Linked DNA regions of Homo sapiens. The protein of the gene in region 1 interacts with the protein of each later gene in a biochemical or structural test. Each region holds a gene or a part of one and is shown in the gene's direction. Other genes may lie near its edges.

Region 1 (3,333 bases):
CCAGTCGAGATAGCTAATAATAACGACCTGAACGAAGCACCTGAAACAAAGTTGCGCCATCTTTTCTTAGACTCATGACACATTCGCAGTCACAGGAGACCCAGATTCATCTGGAGATGATTTCAGGAATCAGCAGTACTCTTCATTTTTTTAGTTTTAGCACAACTTTGTTACTACAAAGAAGAAACTATATGACGGATACTGAGGCTAAGAAAAGCTACATGGTTGGTTATGTAGAGTTAATAAGCTATTTTTTAGTTGTTGAATTAACCTCAACTTGGTATCTTCTACTTTGCTGTGACTTTAGTAGCCTTTTACACCTTCAACAGGTGAATTGGTTGTCATTTGAACTCTGATGAATGGCCCTGTCCAGTCTCACAGCGATGCCTCACAGGCATCAGCACAGGGCACGCCTGGCCCAAGTGCCTATGATGGCCAGCGGGCTTGGGTCTTTTGGAACCCAGTGTACATAGTTCTGGAAAACCCCATTCACTTCCTCCAAATGATGTGATCTGCTTTGTTTTGTGTGAGAATGCTGGTCAAGGAGCAGGTAACACATTCAGTGACCTAGCAGAGCATTGATGAAGTGTGAAACCGAACACTGCCTTCTCATGAAGCAAGTGCAGAGTTGTTAGAAGGTACCATTAACCCATCTTCATTTCTTCTGATGTATTTAGATGGATCCTGAATACCGTGTGAGAAAATTCTTGGCCCTCTTAAGAGAAGAAGGAGCGTAAGTACATACAACATTTAATGACCATCAACCAAACTTACCACCCTGTTAAATCCCTGTGCCTATTCTAAGAGTTGCTTTCCTAGATAAGTTTGTTTCCATTTATTTGAATTCTTCGCTGTGTTGTAGGTCCGAGAGACCAAGCAAGGAAGTTGGTTGTACTGTTGGTTTGCTCTCCCTGTCCTGCTTCGCAAAACTTCCTTGTCACAATGCAGGAAAAACTTAATGGTACATATTTATTGGAACCTGCTTTTACATGCATGGAGCTGTGACCATTTTCTTTTGTGAAGTGCTCATCTAATAGCAAATGCATAGTGGGAAATGTAGGATAACCATTAAGAAGCTTTTAGTGATTTTTTTTTTTTTTTTTTTGATGAATAGTTTTTTACGGACCCTCATCTGTTTTTTTGTGTTTTGGTATTTCTTTTGCAGTAGCCCCCTTGATTTTGATTGAAAATGAACTATTTGAAACACACAGTGACCAAGGGAAGTGACCAAGGTGAAGATGGCCTAGGATCTTCACTGTCTTACTCAAGATACTGGACTAAGTGGAACGTTCTCTACCTTCAACATGTGCTCGCTCTGCATGATTAGTGCAATAAAACTCCCTTCCTTATGCATACTGAGATAGCTTAGTGTCTCGTGGAAGGTGTCAATTTGGTTTAGAATGCTGCGCTTACCTTCCCATGCAGGCTAAAGTGATTCCTTCTTGCTCAGTCCCTCTGGGTGGGAACCATCCAGTACTTGTGGACACTACACGTTTCAACCTCTCTACTAGCACCATCACCCTTGAAAACTCTCAGTCAGTGTCATGAATGTTGCATGACAACAGTTGGCCGATTAGAAGGCAGACTTTCTACATGCAAATCTGGCTTAGTAAATCGAGGTGTGGGCCAGAGATCCTCTGACAGCTGTCCTGAGCTAACACTAAAAGTCACTGGGTATTTGGTTAAAGGTCTCCCACAAGACTGGTATTCTCTTTGCCTGAAGAAACAAGGCATTGAATCTCTAAAATGCTGTTCTCAATCATTGTCAGAGATGTTTTCAAGTTGCAGTCAGAAGATCTTTCTTAATAGAAAGTCAGATGACTACCGTGTTGGTTGTGACTTCCCCTTAAGTATAACTAATTTGCTCTGTGGTAAGAGATATGCTCATTATTACCACTTAGAAGATGTTGTTAAAAACATGTGAAAGATAGGTATGGAAAAAGCATACACCCCCAAACAGAAAGGAGTTATTAAAGTAATTTACAAACCTCTCAGCACTAATTAGTGTCCAACTCCAAGTGGGTCAATTCCTTAGTATAATATTAAGGCTTACTAGTATCACTGCTTTTTCCTTAGCTTAATGACTTACTTAGAATTTATCCTTTATTTTAAATGATCTGTACTATCTAGTGTCTAAAACACTATTCTCCAGAAAAATCAATCATTTTCTAGCCCTCTCCCTCAGTCCTTTATTGTCCATTCCAATACATTGAACACATTTCCTTTACCCTCCACACACTTCTTCCAAAAGGAAGCACCCGTTGAGTCCTTTTGAGGGTGATTTGTCTTACAACTGACTGACTTAGCAGGAATTTAATTAGGTCATATTTGGTGATGAGACTTATGGAGTGTGCCTCTCTCTCCCAACTGCTGCTTAAAATGCAAGGACAAGCAATTAGAAGCCATCCTAAGGTGCTTACCTCACACGCCACCCATGAGGCTTGTGGCCACAGTGGCACTTGGGTGTGGCTCCTCTGTTATTTGTCCTCATGTGAGAAAGCAGATCATCTCCAAATCTTGCCATTTGTATACTTTTGGTGGAGACTTGGATGTCATATCTTCTTTGTTTTGGGTTTTCTTCCCTAGCTTATTTTGTGGCTTTTAAAGAAGTGGATTGTATTGTGAGATCCTGTGATTCCTGGTGGCCAGTATCCTGGATTCCTCTAAGATCTTGCCTCTTTCCTCCTCATGAAAGCAGCACACATTGTGTTAACTTATGTCTCTTGTTAAATGAGCTTAATGTCTTTGTGTTTTGTCCAAAACTGTATTGAAAAAATATTGTTTAATGCAAATGAAGGAATGCAATAAAGAGTAAATATACTTGAAAATGTTCTGTAGACCAGTGTTTCATATAGAACGACATGAACAGCTGATAGGAATGGAGGAAGAAGGAGGGGGCTCAGGAAAGAAACCTCTCCGTGTTTTGTTACAAGTAGCATAACATGAGGGATGATTTTTATTTTAAAAATCTCTTATTTAGAAAGTATAGTTATTTAAAAACATCATTAGAGTATCAGAAAAAGTTAATATACAACCATCTTTATGCTTTATACTTATTTTATCTTACTAAAAAAAAAAAATGCCTGGCACGGTGGCTCATGCCTGTAATCCGAGAGGGAGGCTGAGGTGGGTGGATCACTTGAGGTCAGTAGTTCAAAACCAGCCTGGCCAACATGGTGAAACCCTGTCTCTACTAAAAATGCAAAAAACAGCCGGGTGTGGTGGCACATGCCTATAATCCCAGCTACTCAGGAGGCTGAGGCAGGAGAATTGCTTGAACCTGGGAGGCAGAGGTTGCAGTGAGCCAGGATCACGCCACTTGCACTCAGCCTG
Region 2 (7,037 bases), on another chromosome or scaffold:
GACCTCACGTTTTCTCTTTTCCTTTATGAATCTCACCTCTCTCACCTTCTTCAGGTTTAAATACTCCAATTTTCCCTTTCTCTAAACTTAGAAATTTCCATGCATCACCCTCTTCTAGAATTCATCCCTCACCATTCCTTATATAATTGATTTATTGTAAAGACTCAGAAATAAATCAAACATTCTACTAAGAAAAATTGAGAAGGGGAGCTCTGGGGGTGGAAACATATTAGGGTAAAAGACTTAAAATTGGAGGCAGCATTATCAGAAGATGAAGAACAACTCAGGGATGGGGTGGGAAGAAGACAGGTCCTTTTCTGTACTTCCTAGACAACCTCCATTATTCCCTAAGGGAATCAGTGTTGTGTCTGTCTACTTTTTTTTTTTTTTTTTTGCCACGTAATTTTACAAACTCTCCCTTTTCTAGGCACCCGAACTCTCTGCCATCTTCTCTCCTGGGATGCAGTCATCCCATTTGTATGCCTCATACTTCCTCTACCCTGGTAGATTCTTTCAAGATCCTTGGGCTTTACTTTCCTCACATAACTCAGTTATTCTGCTTCTAGTTTACCATTTTATTCTGGAAATTGAGAGTCCCATCCAGGGGTGGACTTATGACACTACTGAAACTTAGACTTCAAGGTTCCTCACCTACAGGGCCCTCTTCCTGTGCTCTAATAATATAGAGGGCTCGATGGATATGTGTTCATATGGTAACAGGCTTTTGTAAAAATTGCAGAAATAAGATTTTAACAGCAATTGCTTAAAGCCAATTGTATGTGTAATTTTTTTTCTTAAAGACTCCCAATTTTGTAATATTCAGGCACCACAGAACCAAGATCTGCCCCAAACTTAGCTATTGGCATTCCCGTCTCAAATTCTGTTGTCCTATGAAAAATCGAAGAAGAAAATAAGTCCTGACCCCCTTACCCCCAGACCCACCTTGTTCTTATCCCCAGGCACCCTCCCCTCAGAAACGCAGGCTTCTGCTCTCCCCGGTCTTCAGCATGGACAGGTGTGGGAGGGGGCTGGGGATCAGGCCAGGGAAGCTGGGCGCCAGTGGTAACTCTTCTCTGATCCCCGTCTTTCCTGCTGCCAGTGAATCGAACGCCACACTCAGGTGAGATGAGAAACCCTTACCGCGCGCACTGCAATGCCCTCCCCTTCACTCTGCACCCTCCACCCCCCTGAAATTCTGCCCTTAGGCTACGGGGCGTCGTCCTTTCGCACCTTCCCCAACCCACCCCAGTTTGCGGCCACCCCCTTCCCTCCCTACCTGTTTCCTGCCTCCAGTCCCGGTTTTCCACGAGGCTGCGGTCTCTCCTTGTCCCTGCTTGGCTACACTTCCCTGGGCTCCACCTCCTCCCAGACTGAGCCTCGCCGGTGTCAGGCAGAGCCCAGCAGAGGGCGGCAGGGTGCTGGGAGACCCTGAGCTCCCACCACGTTTTCCCCTGTGGGGTTCCTTGCGACCTTCGCTGGAACCTTTTCCAGCCTGCTGCCTCCTAGGATTTCACCTAATGGACTTTCTCAGCCTGTCCCACCCATCCCAACCCTGGCCAGGCCTCTCGCGCTCTTCCCCACATCTTTTCCTTCCGTGTACCCCTTCCCTCGTCTTTTCTCAATTCCATGTCCTGTCTCCCTTTCTTAGGCTTCTGTCTACCCAGCCCCAGGCTCCCTTCCACGACCCCACCACTCCCTCAAACCAGCCTCCCTTCCGTACCCAACTCGTTCCCTCCAAAACCGTTTCCTCTCCCCCACATCCTCAGTGCTTCACTGTATCGACTCATACTCCCACTTCAGACCTCAGGCGCCAGCCCCGTTTCTCTCCCGTCCCACTCGCATCCTTCCCTTCCTACCCTGGTTCCTCCGTGCTTCAGCCTCCCGCGGCTCCCTCCGCCCACCCCGCCCTCCTGGCACGCCCCGTCCCCATTTCTCCTCCCCTCGGGTCCCCTTAAGTGAGATCCCTCCCTTCCTCTTTCGTTCCTTTCCTCCTCGAGGTTGCATCCCCCCTCCCCTCCCCGCCCCTCCGACTGTCGCTCCCACCTCGGCGCTCGCTTCCCTCCCCGCCCCCTTCCTGCCTCCCCAGCTCCCGCCCGCCCCCCCACCCCCCGCTGCCGCGCGCCGCCCGTGACGTCAGAGCCCCCTCCCAGCCCCACATCTCCCTCCTGCTCCTCCTCCTCCCCTCCGTCGGTCAGTCAGTCCGCGAGGAGAGTCCGCGGTGGCGGCGACGGTGGCGAGAGCCGCGGGGGCCGTAGGAAGCCAACCTTCCCTGCTTCTCCGGGGCCCTCGCCCCCTCCTCCCCACAAAATCAGGGATGGAGGCGCCTCCCCGGCACCCTCTTAGCAGCCCTCCCCAGGAAAAGTGTCCCCCCTGAGCTCCTAACGCTCCCCAACAGCTACCCCTGCCCCCCACGCCATGGGGCCCGGGGCCCCTTTTGCCCGGGTGGGGTGGCCACTGCCGCTTCTGGTTGTGATGGCGGCAGGGGTGGCTCCGGTGTGGGCCTCCCACTCCCCCCATCTCCCGCGGCCTCACTCGCGGGTCCCCCCGCACCCCTCCTCAGAACGGCGCGCAGTGTACATCGGGGCACTGTTTCCCATGAGCGGGGGCTGGCCAGGGGGCCAGGCCTGCCAGCCCGCGGTGGAGATGGCGCTGGAGGACGTGAATAGCCGCAGGGACATCCTGCCGGACTATGAGCTCAAGCTCATCCACCACGACAGCAAGGTAGCCCTGGACATGGGGGTGGGTGGGAGGTGGGGGCTTGCGGGGCAGGGGGCCAGCCAGCTGCACGCGCCCCCATCTGTCTGAGTCGTCTCTGGGATTGCGAGGCAGACCCCTCCCTTGTGTGACTGGCAGGAGATGGGCTGGGGGTGCAGGAGCTTGGGGAGAGTCGCAGGGGCTGGAGGTCCAAGATGAGGGTCTAGGGGCTCAAGATGGTTAAGCATGCTGCAAGGCAGACCCTTCTGCCCCGCTGCGGGAGTCTCGCAGAAGTGTCGGGGTTTGGAGAAACTGGTGGTGGATTTAAGGTATTAGGAGACACTGATCCTCTGAGGGAGTAAACTAACCCTGGAATGGGTTGGGGGTGGAGGGAATGTCAGAGGTGGGGAGCTGGATTGGGGGTTTACATTTACCATGGTAACAAGGTAAAATCTTGGCGTAGGTTGGAGCTGGAAGGAATAGGGACAGAATGAGGAAAATTTTGAGAGACTTGAGAGCTCTAGTTTATTTATCTTAACAAAACAGCAAGGTAGTGGTGAGCCCTACCTGACTCCTTCTCATCCTTCTATTCCCAACCCTGTTGAGCATTCCCAGACTGTGGGATAGATGGCATATGGTGATTGGGGAAGGCTAATGATCAAGAGGTGGGCAGAGGCACTGGGAAAATGAATTGGATTGGGGATCCACATGGGAACCCCCACAATAGCATGGGGATGAAGAAGAGTCAACATACAAGGAGAAGAGAACAGAAAAGAATGGCAGTGGGGGAGAGGGGCAAGGAGGTAGCGTGGGGATAATGAGAGATCTTGGGGCACCTTATGGAACTTGGGTCCTGACCTTCCCTTCCCTTATAGCATTGTGGCCTCTAGGATGTGAGAAGGGAAATGGGATGTAGGGATTAGGGAGGTGAGTTGAGGGAGAGAGAGAAGGTAAGCAAATTTGGGTCCAGGGGTATTAGGGGATAGCTTATAATGAGGTTTTTTTTCCCACCCCTCTCCCCTACATGAATAATTGGGGGTGCAGGGAAGGATGTGACACAGGGAAGGAGATTTAAGATCTCAAATTTATCTTCACTGACATGTGGCCCCAGAGACTTAAGGAATTGGGTTAGGGTGAAATAGAGTACACAAGGTGAGAATTTGGTGATCTTACCAAATATCAACCTTGGGGTGATCCAAGGATTTATATTCATTTTTAGAACATCACTATACACCTAGAAATAGGTGTGTGTCTGGGATAGGTGTGTGAGGGGACAGAAGTGAGGTTGAAGGTAGGGTGCTTGAAGAGAAGAGAGCACAAGGATTATCAGGAGCTTGGCAAGAGAACTTAAAATCCTTTTTGACTGTTACTTTCTCGTGGTTCTCAGCCTTCAGTGTACATAAGAATCACCAGAGGAGTTTGTTAAAAATACAGATTCTAGCTCCTTGGTCAGGGATGAATCCCAAGTATTTATCTGTATTTTTACTAATAGACATCCTATCTTGGTGGATTCCTGAGCTGTAAGCTAACCCCAGAATGCCTATGGGAAGAGCAGCAGGGTACAGGAAAATAATTAGGTATTAGGGTACGGGAGGCAGGAAGAGAAGTAGAGGATCAGATCTGGTAGAGGGTCAGACTTGGGACAGTCAGAGAGATCATTGGTTTTGGGGAGTGGAGTGTGAAGAAAATGACAGGGAGAGATGGGTGCAGGCTTTATGATAGGGGATCACAGGAGATAGGGGAGGCCTGGCTGTGAGCTCAAACTCATCCACCATGACAGGTGATTCCCTGGAGGTGGCGGGGAGCAGACGTGGGACCTGGGAGAAGGGAACTGGAGAACATCAGAGGCATCAAGCGGGGTGGGATGGGAAGGCAGAAGAACCAGAATGTGTCAATTGGAATGAGTCGGTTTCCTGCCTGCAAATCCAGATCCTTGCAAGAGCAAAGAGAGGGAGGAGAACTAAGGAAATCTATTGGGGAGGGGGAGAGAATCACGTGGTGGAGAGAATCTGCAGTGATGAATAGTGTGTGGAAGAGGGAAACGGTTGCAAGAAAAGGTAGATAAGAAATCAGGAAACAAAATGGGGGGCATGCCTTGCCCTGTTGATATGTATCTTATATGTTCTTGTATGTCCTCATTGTTCCTATTAACCCTGTCTTTAGAGAAGTGGAGGGGCACTGAGGGGCTGTGGGAGAAGCTGGGAGCAGGATCTGGAGTAATAGATGTGGGGAGAGTGCAGGAAGGTGGGTCCTGAGAATGGTAAAGATTTACAAAGTTGCCCTAGTGGGAGGCATAAAGAGAAAACCTTCCAATGTTGTTGAGCACTGCCCTTGGCCAGAGTGAGGGTAGGGTGGGCAACAGAGAATTCTCAGTGACTGCTGGTTCTTCAGATTCCAACAGCTTCCCCTGGCTCCCCCTTCTCCAACTTCCCACCGTGTCCCAAATGTCAGGCCTCAGTGGGAGGTAAGCAGGCTCCAGAGTGCTTTCTTTATTTCCTTTCTACTTATCCTCCCCTCCTGGCAACATTTCACCCTCCTTAGTCCCCTGAGCCCCCTGTCTGTGTCCCCTCTGCCCTGGCTCCCCACTGGCTGCCATTTCGTCTTCACATGCATTGGGGTTCCAGCAGCTTCTGAAATGTCATATATCAGTGGGAGGGGAACAGGCAGTGGGAGACCCAAGGCTGGCTCTTCCTCCCCCATTTCCCCTCCTCCCAAGCTTCCTTTCTTCTCCAGCTTTCTGCTTGTTTACTTTCCCTAGCTCCAAGCCTCTCTTTAAGGCACCTCTCAAATTGTCTGGTTTCTTGAGAGTTCCATTCTATTCATTCTCTCTGTTCTTTCCTCATCCTACATTCTTCCCTACTTCCACCCCCCAGTGTCTTTTTTTCTAATGGACCTGTCAAATGTCAGCGCCCAGCAGGAGGGATGGATCACTGAGCGGGACCCCCTACTGGTCTTGTTCCTGTTCTCTCTTTACTTATCACTAGCTCTGAAAAGAGAAGAGGGAGGAAACAAATGGAAGGTGGGGAGAAGGGGTTTGCAGAGGTGAGGAAGGAATTTTCATAATATGGCTTTGAGCAAGCTATCTGGGGATGTGGAAAGAGTTTACCGTATTCCTACTGACTTCTTCCACCCACTGGTGTTTGAAGCATAGAAACATGGGGTAAAGGGCTTGGTGACAGAGGGAAGGGGGATGTCTGAGGGTGAGCTGAAAGGAGGTAAGGTGGTATGTTCATTAATACCAAAGGAGGGGTGTGCAGGAGAGGTGATGGGTAAGGCTCCAGATGGAAGACAGAGAAGGAAGTTTAATGAAAGAGGAGAAAAAAGGCACTTGACAGGAAGAGATGCCAGAAAGGAGAAGAAAACGGTAATTAATGATGAAAGTGAGTAATTGAGAAAGGAACTAATTTGTTCGAGAAAGATAAGAGCAGGAATTGCAGACAGGGGAGGGGCCCCAGGAGAGCTTGCCCTCATCTCCTCTTGTCTTTCAGTGTGATCCAGGCCAAGCCACCAAGTACCTATATGAGCTGCTCTACAACGACCCTATCAAGATCATCCTTATGCCTGGCTGCAGCTCTGTCTCCACGCTGGTGGCTGAGGCTGCTAGGATGTGGAACCTCATTGTGGTAAGCAGGGCTATGGGGGTCAGAAGATGGGGTCATTCCCTTTTGAGCTCTACTGAAGGGACGATGGCGATTGTGGGTTTGTATTGAAAAGGAGTGTGGAGGACCTGCTACTAAGATTCAGAGTCCTCTGCAGACCTGAGCTAGGCAGCCTCCTAGCAACAGTGGCCTGACAGTGCTGCAGCTGACCTCCTTCTTCAGAAGGAATTGAAATTAGATCAGTGAAAGAGCATCCCGGTTGTGAGGGGTGTGTGGGCCTTTGAGAATCTCTTTTCCTTAGGCAGACCAGAGGTGGGGAGGTTTGGAGAGAGTAAGGAAGAGAAACCCAAAGGCAGGAAGAGGGTTAAAGGAACTCTTGGCCACTCTTGGTGTCCTCAGTGAACAGACCCTGTTGCACTCACTCTCCCTGCCCCACAGCTTTCCTATGGCTCCAGCTCACCAGCCCTGTCAAACCGGCAGCGTTTCCCCACTTTCTTCCGAACGCACCCATCAGCCACACTCCACAACCCTACCCGCGTGAAACTCTTTGAAAAGTGGGGCTGGAAGAAGATTGCTACCATCCAGCAGACCACTGAGGTCTTCACTTCGGTGAGGAGGGGTTGGGCAAGGGGTAAAGGGACATAAGCTCAAATTCCAGCACCAGGAGATGTGACGTGAGAGTCACTTTTAGGGGCAAGAACTTGATTCTTCATTGAAAGAGAACGCATTCCATGTGGATTAAGT
Region 3 (7,037 bases), on another chromosome or scaffold:
AAAAGAGTACCAGCATGCAGCGATGCTGGGAAGCCTTGTTAATAATATAAAGCTTTTGTTCACTACATCGTCCTTTCAGAAGATGTATAACAGTGTCCCTAATTCCAGGAGTGAATTTTATATACATTCTGGGAGTTCACACTTTTATCTGGCAAATTCATAGGACTTAAATCTCAGGCAGATGAAATGTAGTCTACTACTTTTACAAGTATACCTTGTATTTCAAGAAAATCTTATCCCATCCTCCAAACCTGATATAAATACATTTATTCTTTGTCACTCTATATGCCTTTCCCTCCTCCCACATACTCACATGGTTCTTTCTAACCTTCCAGATTCAAATATTAAAGACATCTGAGGTCACGCAGCATCTGCCCAGGGAGTGTCTTCCAGAAAACCTGGGTGGGTACGTCAAAATTGATCTCGCCACTTGGAATTTCCAGTTCCTACCCCAGGTGAACGGCCACCCAGATCCCTTCGATGAGATCATCCTGTTCTCCCTCCCTCCTGCCTTAGACTGGGACTCAGTACATGTTCCAGGTCCCCATGCTATGACCATCCAAGAGTTGGTGGACTATGTTAATGCCAGGCAAAAGCAAGGAATCTATGAGGAATATGAAGACATTCGTCGTGAGAACCCTGTTGGCACTTTCCACTGTTCCATGTAAGTAGAAAAAGTTTGGGCCAGCAGCTGGTTACCAGGATGCTTCTGGTAGGCTCTGGCAACAGCTCCTTCCACCCCTCACTTGCTTAGCAGAGACCCTTCCTTATGTTAGGGAACATCACTCTCACATAAATGATGGTTTCTCGCATGCAGAAAGAGGTACTTTCTGCTTTGGTGCTTCTTTTTTTTTTTCTTTTTTTTTTAAATTTTTATTTTTTTTATTGATCATTCTTGGGTGTTTCTCGCAGAGGGGGATTTGGCAGGGTCATAGGACAATAGTGGAGGGAAGGTTGGCAGATAAACAAGTGAACAAAGGTCTCTGGTTTTCCTAGGCAGAGGACCCTGCGGCCTTCCGCAGTGTTTGTGTCCCTGGGTACTTGAGATTAGGGAGTGGTGATGATTCTTAACGAGCATGCTGCCTTCAAGCATCTGTTTAACAAAGCACATCTTGCACCGCCCTTAATCCATTTAACCCTGAGTGGACACAGCACATGTTTCAGAGAGCACAGGGTTGGGGGTAAGGTCACCGATCAACAGGATCCCAAGGCAGAAGAATTTATCTTAGTACAGAACAAAATGAAAAGTCTCCCATGTCTACTTTCTACACAGACACGGCAACCATCCGATTTCTCAATCTTTTCCCCACCTTTCCCCCCTTTCTATTCCACAAAACCGCCATTGTCATCCTGGCCCGTTCTCAATGAGCTGTTGGGTACACCTCCCAGACGAGGTGGTGGCTGGGCAGAGGGGCTCCTCACTTCCTAGTAGGGGTGGCTGGGCAGAGGTGCCCCTCACCTCCCGGACGGGGTGGCTGGCCAGACCCCCCCACCTCCCTCCCGGACGGGGCGGCTGGCCAGGCGGGGGGCTGACCCCCCCACCTCCCTCCCGGACGGGGCGGCTGGCCGGGCAGAGGGGCTCCTCACTTCCCAGTAGGGGCGGCCGGGCAGAGGCGCCCCTCACCTCCCGGGCGGGGGGCTGACCCCCCCACCTCCCTCCCGGACAGGGCGGCTGGCCGGGCGGGGGGCTGACCCCCCCACCTCCCTCCCAGACGGGGCGGCTGGCCGGGCAGAGGGGCTCCTCACTTCCCAGTAGGGGCGGCAGGGCAGAGGCGCCCCTCACCTCCTGGACGGGGCGGCTGGCTGGGCGGGGGGCTGACCCCCCCCACCTCCCTCCCGGACGTGGGGCTGACCCCTCCACCTCCCTCCCGGACCGGGCGGCTGGCCGGGCGGGGGGCTGATCCCCCCACCTCCCTCCCGGACGGGTCGGCTGGCCGGGCGGGGGGCTGAGCCCCCCACCTCCCTCCCGGACGGGGTGGCTGGCCCGGCAGAGGGGCTCCTCACTTCCCAGTAGGGGCGGCTGGGCAGAGGCGCCCCTCACCTCCCGGACGGGGCGGCTGGCCGGGCAGGGGGCTGACCTCACCTCCCTCCCGGACGGGGCGGCTGGCCGGGCGGGGGGCTGACCCCCCCGACCTCCCTCCCGGACATGGGGCTGACCCCCCCACCTCCCTCCCGGACGGGGCGGCTGTCCGGGCGGGGGGCTGACCTCCCCACCTCCCTCCCGGACGGGGCGGCTGTCCGGGCGGGGTGCTGATCCCCCCACCTCCCTCCCGGACGGGTCGGCTGGCCGGGCGGGGGGCTGAGCCCCCCACCTCCCTCCCGGACGGGGCGGCTGGCCCGGCAGAGGGGCTCCTCACTTCCCAGTAGGGGCGGCTGGGCAGAGGCGCCCCTCACCTCCCGGACGGGGCGGCTGGCCGGGCGGGGGGCTGACCCCACCTCCCTCCCGGACGGGGCGGCTGGCCGGGCGGAGGGCTGACCCCCCCTCACCTCCCTCCCGGACGGGGCGGCTGGCCGGGCGGGGGGCTGACCCCCCCACCTCCCTCCCGGACGGGGGGCTGACCCCCCCCCCACCTCCCTCCCGGATGGGGCGGCTGGCCGGGTTGGGGGCTGACTCCCCCACCTCCCTCCCGGACGGGGTGGCTGGCCAGGCAGAGGGGCTCCTCACTTCCCAGTAGGGGCGGCTGGGCAGAGGCGCCCCTCACCTCCCGGACGGGGCGGCTGGCCGGGCGGGGGGCTGACCCCCCCACCTCCCTCCCGGACGGAGCGGCTGGCCGGGCGGGGGGCTGACCCCCCCACCTCCCTCCCGGACGGGGCGGCTGCCGGGCGGAGACGCTCCTCACTTCCCAGACGGGGTGGCTGCCGGGCAGAGGGACTCCTCACTTCTCAGACGGGGCGGCTGCCGGGCGGAGGGGCTCCTCACTTCTCAGATGGGGCGGATGCTGGGCGGAGGGTCTCCTCACTTCTCAGACGGGGCGGCTGGGCAGAGACGCTCCTCACCTCCCAGACGGGGTCGCGACCGGGCAGAGGAGCTCCTCACATCCCAGACGGGGCAGCGGGGCAGAGGCGCTCCCCACATCTCAGACGATGGGCGGCCGGGCAGAGATGCTCCTCACTTCCCAGATGGGATGGCTGCCGGGAAGAGGCGCTCCTCACTTCCTAGATGGGATGGCGGCCGGGCAGAGACGCTCCTCACTTTCCAGACTGGGCAGCCAGGCAGAGGGGCTCCTCACGTCCCAGACGATGGGCGGCCAGGCAGAGACGCTCCTCACTTCCCAGACGGGGTGGTGGCCGGGCAGAGGCTGCAATCTCGGCACTTTGGGAGGCCAAGGCAGGCGGCTGGGAGATGGAGGTTGTAGTGAGCTGAGATCACGCCACTGCACTCCAGCCTGGGCACCATTGGGTGCTTCTTGCTAACATCCTATGCTCTGAAATTTCTGAAGGTCTTTGGTACCAACAGGATAACCCTGTTGGACATATTTTTGGATATTTTTCTGAAATGCAAGTTTTTTTTAAAAAAAGTAGGTTCAAAATAGGCTACTCTCTATTCCAGTACTCAGTGTGAGTGCTGGTCTGTTCATTTGGGCAGTTTCTCCCCATAACATTTATGGTATAACATTACTTCTTGAGGAGGGGTATGTGGTACACTTAAAATAATCCACAGTCAGAGAGTACAGTTGCCTCATAGGACTTTAACCCCTTGAGATTTTCATTCTACTCAAATCCTATCACAAAACCATCTCGCTAGTTTATAACTCTGGCTCGTAACTAGTTGATAACTATATATACATACATACATATATATATACACACCCACACACAAATTAGCTGGGTGTGGTGGCGCACACCTGTAATTCCTTCCTTCCTCCCTCCCTCTCTTTTTTTTTTCTTTCTGAGATGGAGTCTCGTTCTGTCACCCAGGCTGGAGTGCAATGGCACGATCTCGGCTCACTGCAACCTCCGCCTCCCAGGTTCAAGCGATTCTTCCTGCCTCACCCTCCCAAGTAGCTGGAATTATAGGCGCGCACCACCATGCCTGGCTAATTTTTGTATTTTTAGTAGAGACAGGGTTTCACGATGTTGTCCAGGTTGATCTTGAACTCCTGACCTCAGGTGATCTGCCTGCCTCAGCCTCCCGAAGTGCTGGGATTACAGGTATGATCTACCGCACCTGGCCTCTTTTTCTTTTTTCTCTTCTCTTCTTTTCTTCTTCTCTTCTCCTTTTCTTTTCTTTTATCCTTTTCTTTTCCTCAAATTCCTAGGTTAAAGCGATCCTCCTACTTCAGCCTCCTGAGTAGCTGGGACTACAGGTATGTGCCACTATGTCCAGCTCATTTTTTATTTTTTGAAGAGATGGGGTTTTGGCATGTTGCCCAGGCTGGTCTCAAACTCCGAGGCTCAAGTGATCCTCCTGCCTCAACCTCCCAAAGTGTTGGGATTACAGGTGTGAGCCACCGCACCTGGTCAGATTATTTCTCTTACCATGTTGCTGTCATTTCTCTTACCATGTTTTAATTGGCTGCCCCAGAAATCTCTTTCTCTCCAGCTAGTGAGCTGTGACTGTTGAAAACTACAGAAACTAGGGCTGGGGGCAGTGGCTCATGCCTATAATCCCAGCACTTTGGGAGTAAAGGTATAGGAGGATCATTTGTGCCCAGGAGTTTGAGACTAACCTGAGCAGCATAGCAAGACCCTACCTCTACAAAAATAAAAAACGAAAAAATTAGCCAGGCATGGTGGCACACTCCTGTTGTCCCAGCTATGCAGGAGGATCACTTGAGCCCGGGAGGTCAAGACCACAGTGAGTTATGATCACGCCACTGAGCTCCAGCCTAAGTGACAGAGTAAGACTTTGTCTAAGGAAAAAAAAAAAAAAAGAAAGAAAGAAAAGAAGAGGAAAAAAAAAAAAGAAAGAAAATGAGGGAAGCCATCCTAGTGGGTCCCAGCCTCATATTCCAACTTAACCAAAAATTCCCTCTGTGAGTGACACAAGTTATTTCCCTTCTCAGCACTTTGGTTTTCCTCTGTATAATATGTGACTACTGGACTCTGATATTCACCTACCTTTGTAGCTTAAATGTTTTAGAAATCTAGGATTCTGTGAGTACCTCTTCTCTCTTGTAACTCCTGTCCAGTGTAGTCAGTGTGTTCTGAATAAGATGCAGGGATAGAGTCTTTTAGCAAAGCAAAGAGGGAAAATAATGAGTTGGGGAAAATAATGAGATAGGGAAAGTAAGAGATAAGAGGCACTTGAGAAAGAAGTCAATCAGATCAAGAATGCAAAGGAAAATAAGAGGAGAAAAAGGGGACACAGACCATATATCAACAAGGGAAATTATTCTTTTCTCTCATACAGCTCTGTTTCTTCCCTACCAGCTCCAGACCCCTATTTTTATTTAATTTTTATTTCATTTTACTTATTGTATTTATTATTTTATTATTATTATTTTTTTTAGAGACAGGGTCTTGCTCTGTCCCCCAGACTGGCGCATAGTGGCATGATCATGGCTCACTGCAGCCTCCATCTCTTGATGCTCAATTGATCCTCCTGCCTCAGCCTCTTGAGTAGCTGAGACCACAGACATGCACCACCATGCCTGGCTAATTTTTTAAATTTTTTGTAGAGTCTCCCTATGTTGCCCAGGCTGGTCTTGAACCCCTGGGCTCAAGTGATCCTCCTGCCTCAGCCTTCCAAAGTGCTGGAATTATGGGTGCTACCTATACCCAACTACCAGACTCCCTGTTTATATCCAATCTCTTTTGCAAACAGAACAGTTATTCCCTTAAAGTCTTTTTTGTTGTTGTTGAGACAGTCTCACTCCATCACCCAGGCTGGAGTGCAATGGTATGATTTCGGCCCACTGCAACCTCCGCCTTGTGGGTTCAAGCCATTCTGTGCCTTAGTCTCCCAAGTAGATGGAATTACAGGTGTGTGCCACCACACCCAACTAATTTGTGTGTGTATATATATGTGTGTGTGTGTGTGTGTGTGTGTGTATGTATGTTTGTTTATTTATTTATTTATTTATTTTGAGACAGAGTCTCACTCTCGGCCAGGCTAGAGTGCAGTGCCACGATCTCAGCCCACTGCAACCTCCATCTCCCGGCTCAAGCAATTCTCCTGCCTCAGCCTCCTGAGTAGCTGGGATTACAGGCGTGTGCCACCACACCCGGTTAATTTTGTATTTTTAGTAGAGATGGGGTTTCACTGTGTTGGCCAGGCTGGTCTCAAACTCCTGACCTCGGGTGATTCGTCCTCCTTGGCTTCCCAAAGTGCTAGGATTACAGGCGTGAGCCACCATGCCTGGCCTAATTTGTGTATTTTTAGTAGAGATGGGGTTTTGCCATGTTGGCCAGGCTGATCTCGAACTCCTGACCTCAAGTGATCTGCCCACCTCAGCCCTGCAAAGTGCTGGGATTACAGGCATGAGCCACTATGCCCAGCCTCCCTTGCAGTCTTGAATCAAGGAAATATGTTGGAGCAGGGAGGCATGCTAGGCTGATCTAAGAGGATGCACACTTATCCTGGGGATTCTTCACCTTGCTCTCGGTGCTTTTGCAACTACCAGCTGCTGTGAGGCCCTTGAGATGTCATTTCTACTATGGAGTCTCCCCTCCTCCATTAAAAAAGTGGGTTTGGCTGGGCGCGGTGGCTCACGCCTGTAATCGCAGCACTTTGGGAGGTTGAGGCTGGCAGATCACGAGGTCAAGAGATTGAGAACATCCTGGCCAACATGGTGAAACCCCGTCTCTTCTAATAATACAAAAATTAGCTGGGTGTGGTGGCACGCACCTGTAGTCCCAGCTACTTGGGAGGCTGAGGCAGGAGAATCACTTGAGCCCAGGAGGCGGAGGTTGCTGTGAGCCAAGATCATGCCACCGCACTCCAGCCTGGGCGATAGAGCAAGACTCTGTCTCAAAAAAAAAAAAAAAAAAAAAAAAGTGGGTTTAGATCGTCTTGTTGCCATCATCCAAACCAGCTACCATTTGACAATCAGAGAACAGATCTCTCATCTAATGAGAGGACTTCCTAGTCTTGC

The links.
Region 2: the proteins of NSF (region 1) and GABBR1 form a complex in vitro, tested with the Homo sapiens proteins (one study listed by IntAct).
Region 3: of the proteins of NSF (region 1) and PTPN9, one has a biochemical effect on the other in vitro, tested with the Homo sapiens proteins (one study listed by IntAct).

Annotation. Positions count from the first base shown.
Region 1 is NC_000017.11:46,754,637-46,757,969, forward strand, and holds the end of NSF (vesicle-fusing ATPase), read left to right. Parts: intron 1-677; coding exon 678-733; exon of another isoform or gene 734-737; intron 738-1,165; coding exon 1,166-1,187; 3' UTR 1,188-2,828; downstream 2,829-3,333.
Region 2 is NC_000006.12:29,623,170-29,630,206, reverse strand, and holds part of GABBR1 (gamma-aminobutyric acid type B receptor subunit 1 isoform a precursor), read left to right. Parts: intron 1-1,099; coding exon 1,100-1,120; intron 1,121-2,193; exon of another isoform or gene 2,194-2,415; coding exon of another isoform or gene 2,416-2,560; coding exon 2,561-2,721; intron 2,722-6,182; coding exon 6,183-6,317; intron 6,318-6,731; coding exon 6,732-6,902; intron 6,903-7,037.
Region 3 is NC_000015.10:75,499,302-75,506,338, reverse strand, and holds part of PTPN9 (tyrosine-protein phosphatase non-receptor type 9), read left to right. Parts: intron 1-335; coding exon 336-664; intron 665-3,299; exon of another isoform or gene 3,300-3,336; intron 3,337-6,949; exon of another isoform or gene 6,950-7,037. UniProt on the Homo sapiens protein: Protein-tyrosine phosphatase that could participate in the transfer of hydrophobic ligands or in functions of the Golgi apparatus.